Regions from separate parts of the Homo sapiens genome. Here region 1 is linked to region 2. The links come from fine-mapping of genetic effects on gene expression. A gene starts in region 2. The other region holds a variant in brackets. All regions are shown on one strand. Distances are from middle to middle. Region 1 overlaps HM13 (histocompatibility minor 13). Region 2 holds the start of HM13 (histocompatibility minor 13).

The links. PIP is the estimated chance that this variant, and not a neighbour inherited with it, causes the effect.
Region 1: its variant is fine-mapped to the expression of HM13 in whole blood (INTERVAL, PIP 0.99).

Annotation. Positions count from the first base shown.
Region 1 is chr20:31,566,843-31,569,690 of GRCh38, forward strand. HM13 (histocompatibility minor 13) reads left to right here. Exons shown (of 13, transcript NM_178581.3): 12 at 1,236-1,382; 13 at 2,278-2,701. The coding sequence ends at 2,377. It overlaps HM13-AS1 (HM13 antisense RNA 1), which reads right to left. Exons shown (of 3, transcript NR_046853.2): 3 at 745-1,106. Among named protein-coding and RNA genes, the nearest start is that of HM13-AS1, 5.0 kb to the right of the region's middle. RefSeq lists enhancers at 1-697, 1-110 and a silencer at 2,764-2,848. The variant T/G (reference allele first, on the strand shown) is at 1,733.
Region 2 is chr20:31,512,750-31,515,651 of GRCh38, forward strand. HM13 (histocompatibility minor 13) reads left to right here and starts at 1,693. Exons shown (of 13, transcript NM_178581.3): 1 at 1,693-1,985. The coding sequence starts at 1,803. RefSeq lists a silencer at 2,290-2,359.

The sequences.
Region 1 (2,848 bases), 54 kb after region 2:
CACACCCTGCACACAGCCCCACCCATACCGCAAGGCCTGCGTGACTCCAACAGGTGTCTGCCCCCAGCACTGCCGACCCTGCCTGCCAGGGACCTAGAAATAGCTGTCAGTTGCGATTAAAGCTGCCTACTCGGGTGCCTTCCGCCCAGTTCCACCTGCCTGGCCTCCAAGCTGTCCCTAGAGCGCTTGCCAGGGCCTCCTGTGCACCTGGCTCCCCGCAGGGGAGCCTGTGACTCACCCCTCCCCCGGACCTGCCTCTGCCCTCCCTGTCCTGTCTAGAATCCCCAGCCCCCCGCCTGCCTGCCCACATTGCCTCGCCCAGCAAAGCTCTGTGGTCTGAGGCAAGTGGGGGCTAGGGGTGAACTTGGGGACAGGTCTCAGGGAGCTTTGGGAGCAGGCATGGCACCCGATCCCTGAGCTTAGCACCCATCCTTCACCCTCCCTCTGCTTCCCATCCAGCCCAGGTTTCCCTGCCCCTCCCCTTGGGGTAACCACCCAATGCTATTGTGCCCTCATCAGGCAAAGCTCTGAATACACAAGGCAGAGGGTGCCCCTGGCCTTTACCTGCTTGGTGCTAAATGCTCTGCCATACAGGTACCCTGCCCCCACTGTTTGCCCTCCACTCCCACCCTGGACATTCTTAGATTGGGGTAAAAAGCAAGTGATCTCTCTCTCTCTCTCTCTCCCTCCTTTCTCCCCATTTCTCTCCCAATTCTCCACCTTTTTACTTTTCCCTTCTATTCTCCTCCTTTTTTTATTGATTTACTTATTTTTATATTGGTACCACATTCACATAGTTAAAAATTCCAAAGCTGTAACAGAGAGAGCACCCTCATGCTCCAGCTACCCCACAGAGGCCAGCAGTGTTACACAGACATTCAGACACCTGTGCACTGATGTGTGTATACTTTTTCTTGCACAGACGGTGGCATTCTTGGAGCATTCTGCACATTGGGTTTCTACGGTATTTCTTAGAGGTGTTTCCACAGCAGCACATACACTTCTAGAGCATGCTTGTTCTTCTGCACAGTGGCCTGATGTGCCTTTGTCTAGGTGCATCTTTCTTTTTTCATTCTCCAAATAATATCAGCTTCTTTCCATAAAATCTGGAAGTGCAAAAATAGGTAAAAACAAGACAGTTCTGCTCTCTGCTCCTTGGAAAGGAAGTCTCTGTCCTCCCTTAGTCTTTCCCTATCCATCTCTTTTTTTCTGTCTCTTCTCTCTCTCTCACACAGCTACGAGTCCTCGGCGGAAATCCTGCCTCATACCCCGAGGCTCACCCACTTCCCCACAGTCTCGGGCTCCCCAGCCAGCCTGGCCGACTCCATGCAGCAGAAGCTAGCTGGCCCTCGCCGCCGGCGCCCGCAGAATCCCAGCGCCATGTAATGCCCAGCGGGTGCCCACCTGCCCGCTTCCCCCTACTGCCCCGGGGCCCAAGGTAGGGCAGACACTGCAGCTCCAGTGCATAGGGCAGGGACCATTGCCAGGAGTAGGCCGCAAGAGCAGCTCCTCCACAACCACCAGGCAGTGGTTGCACCGAGCCATAGGGCTGGGAAGCAGGACAACCCCGAAGCTTCCTGCCCTCACCAGTAATGCGGGGCCCACATCATAGTGGATGGAAATGGCCCTTGTCATGCAGTAGTAGATACTGTTACCATTCAAGGTATATGTATAACCTTAGGCAAGTTACTTTCTTCATCTGTAAGTGGGCACATTCCTGCCTCACGGGGTT[T/G]ATCTGGTGAGGAAAGATTTGTATTATCTTTGGCATGAACTCAGTTGCTTGAAAAATGAAGCCCATAGAAGAAGCTAAGCCAGGGTGTCTGTCTTCAGAGCAGCACCTTGCCGCTTGCCAGTACAGCAGTGCCCTCACCTCTGGGGCTGAGCTGTTTGATTCATGCTGTGTGCCCTGGGAGGCAGCCTATCTCCATCTCTTGTAGCCTTGTCATGGCCACCCCTTTTTCCACGCTACAGCAGAAGGTTCAGGAAGCTTGAAATCAGCCCACACAAGCCCAGGCCCAACCTCTCTTCCATTGGCTGCTGCCCTTGCTGCCTCCTGGTACCCCCAGGCTCAGAGAAAGCAGAGCAGCCTGCCTGAGGAGGGCATGTGGTAGGGCTGGGGCCAGGCGCTGTTAGGTGCTGGGCAGTGGACACAGGGCTGACGCTCTGCATGTGACCAGGCGCTTTCCTAGGATGGGGGTGGGGGAAGGGGACAACCAAGGTTCTGCTCACCCTCTCCTCTAAATGAATTTTTATTGTTGTTTTTTTTTTTTTGGTCAGTTATGAGGAGTCAAATCCTAAGGATCCAGCGGCAGTGACAGAATCCAAAGAGGGAACAGAGGCATCAGCATCGAAGGGGCTGGAGAAGAAAGAGAAATGATGCAGCTGGTGCCCGAGCCTCTCAGGGCCAGACCAGACAGATGGGGGCTGGGCCCACACAGGCGTGCACCGGTAGAGGGCACAGGAGGCCAAGGGCAGCTCCAGGACAGGGCAGGGGGCAGCAGGATACCTCCAGCCAGGCCTCTGTGGCCTCTGTTTCCTTCTCCCTTTCTTGGCCCTCCTCTGCTCCTCCCCACACCCTGCAGGCAAAAGAAACCCCCAGCTTCCCCCCTCCCCGGGAGCCAGGTGGGAAAAGTGGGTGTGATTTTTAGATTTTGTATTGTGGACTGATTTTGCCTCACATTAAAAACTCATCCCATGGCCAGGGCGGGCCACTGTGCTCCTGGAAGATTCTCTGTTTAAGCACCCAGTGTCTTGCCCTGGGTTTTCTAGGTCTCACCTGCCCACCCAAAATCTTTTCTGCAAGCCCCTTAAGGGTGCCCACCCCAGTGCCTGGCCAGCCCTGCACCCG
Region 2 (2,902 bases):
GGTAGAGGCTGCAGTGAGCTGTGATCATGCCACTGCACTCCAGCCTGGGTGACAGAGTGAGACCCTGTCTCAAAATAATAATAATAATAATAATAATAATAGGCCCTCCTTGAAGTTTTTTGTTTGCACAGTCACACAGTGATGCTTAGATGTTCCAGTATCTAATATAGCCACAGTAGGCTGCAAGCAGTGGCTCATACCTGTAATCCCAACACTTTAGGAGGCTGAGGCAGGAGGATCACTTGAACCTAGGAGTTTGAGACCAGCCTGGCCAACATGGCAAAACCCCATGTCTAAGAAAATATATATTTTTAACTTTTTTAACAATATCAAAAATAAGAATCACATAAATAAACAGATTCTTCAAATTCTGAAAAGAGCCACAAAGCTTTATAAATTGTACAGGGGCATGAACTCGTAAGGTATTATAATTGCCTGGCACATAGTAGGCTCTCAATACATTTGCAAACTCCACACACACCTTACTTTCTTTTGCTTTATTTTTCTCTATTTATCTGCATTAACATGCTATGTAACACATAACTATACATTAACGTTTTACAAATTACAAATTTTTCTTGTTTTTTTTTTTTTTTTTTTTGAGACAGAGTCTCACTCTGTCGCCCAGGCTGGAGTGCAGTGGGCTCACTGCAACCTCCGCCTCCCAGGTTCAAGCCAGTCTCCTGCCTCAGCCTCCCAAGTAGCTGGGATTGTAGGCGCCCGCCACCACGCCCGGCTAATTTTTTATATTTTTAGTACAGACGGGGTTTCACCGTGTTAGCCAGGATGGTCTCGATCTCCTGACCTCGCAATCTGCCCACCTCGGCCTCCCAAAGTGCTGGGATTACAGGCGTGAGCCACCGCGCCTGGCCTTTTTTTTTTTTTTTTTTTTTTTTTTTTTCAGACGGAGTTTCGCTCTTGTTGCCCAGGCTGGAGTGCAATGGCTCAGTCTTGGCTCACTGCAACCTCCGCCTCCCGGGTTCAGGCGATTCTCCTGCCTCAGCCTCCCGAGTAGCTGGGATTACAGGTGCGTGCCACCACGCCCGGCTAATTGTTTGTATTTTTAGTGCAGACGGGGTTTCACCATATTGGTCAGGCTGGTCTCGAACTCGTGACGTCAGGTGATCCACCCGCCTCGGCCTCCTAGAGTGCTGGGATTACAGGCGTGAGCCACTGCGCCCAGCCCATTTTACAGACTTTTATTTTGTTCAGTTTCTTTATTGTCTTCCCAACGTCCCCCCACACACACTGCACTAAAATGCAAACTTCACGAAGGCAAGGAGGAACTTTTGCCTGTATTGTTCACCTCAGTGTCCCCAGAGCCTAGGTCAGTTGTTGGCATATTGAGGGACATTCAATAAATATTTAAGGAGTGAATAAACAATTGGATACCCAATAAATGCATGTATGAATAAACACATTCTTAGTTATTCGGAATATGAGGATTTGCGGAGAGTGGACAGCAGGGGATTGAGGAGACCGGCTGGGACTGGGAAATGGGCATTCGGGTCGCATGCCCACCGCAGTGGCCCAGAGCCCCTGTCCGGACCGCTAACAAGTTGCTTAGCAACCCGCCGCCCGGCCCTCGGCCACCGCTAGAGGGCGAGCGGGCGGGGAGACGTGCACGCGCGCGCGCGTGCGTGCAAGCGTGTGTGCGCGCGTGCGCGGCGCGGGCTTGGGAGGGAGCACGTCACTTCCTGTTGCCTTAGGGGAACGTGGCTTTCCCTGCAGAGCCGGTGTCTCCGCCTGCGTCCCTGCTGCAGCAACCGGAGCTGGAGTCGGATCCCGAACGCACCCTCGCCATGGACTCGGCCCTCAGCGATCCGCATAACGGCAGTGCCGAGGCAGGCGGCCCCACCAACAGCACTACGCGGCCGCCTTCCACGCCCGAGGGCATCGCGCTGGCCTACGGCAGCCTCCTGCTCATGGCGCTGCTGCCCATCTTCTTCGGCGCCCTGCGCTCCGTACGCTGCGCCCGCGGCAAGGTAGGGTCAGCGGGAAAACCGGGCACTTTCCACCCCCATACCGAACACGGCCGACATGGACCCTTCCTAGGCGGGACAGACACCTCTCCCCGGACACTGACTCTTCCCAGCCCTGATCACCACCGTTCCCTCTGTCTCGGGCCCACATTCCGGGGCTGGCATTTCCTACCCCGGGATCTGGGCACCGACCCCCGACCAGGGTATGATACCTTCCCCAATAGGAACTTGCTTCTGCTCCCGACCCGGACCCTGACACTTCCCTCCCTGTGCATCATGCCGCGGCTGGGAACGCTGTCAGCCCGTCCCCCACTGCGACTCGGGCACTGATTGTTCTGAGCCTGTTGGGCCCAGGCAGATCAGCCCCATCATGTATACCTGATGGATACTGGTCCTCACAACTTACTGAATGGTACAATTTCGTGTCATTCCCTGTTAGGAACCCTGCCTCAGCCCACCGCAGGGCCCTTTCTACCATCCAGACCCATCCCTAGACTCTGACTCCTGTCTCACTGGAATCTATGGCACCTTATGTGCTCACCTAGATCCCCCACACCTGGCCCTTGCCCCTGCCTCAAAAACAATGATCTCTTAGAGCCCAGTTTTTCACATCACTTTCTGGAACCATCCCAGTCAGCTGGCTCCTCAGAAGCTGGCATCTTGGTGCCTCTACTTTCCAACTAGGCATGGACGTCTTATTTTCCTGGTTTCCTCTCTTAACTACCATCCAACCTTGGACATGGCCTAGTCAAAACCTAGACCTTGTTCCTAACCTGTAACCCTTTTCCCACCCAGCCTTTGACCCTATCTCAAAGTAGCCCTTCTCCCCATACCCCCAAGACAATCCCCCCACCAAACTGGGCCTGTCTGCTGGGCCACTGTTGGCCCCTCTTGTGAGACTGGGCCAGACTCCATCCCTG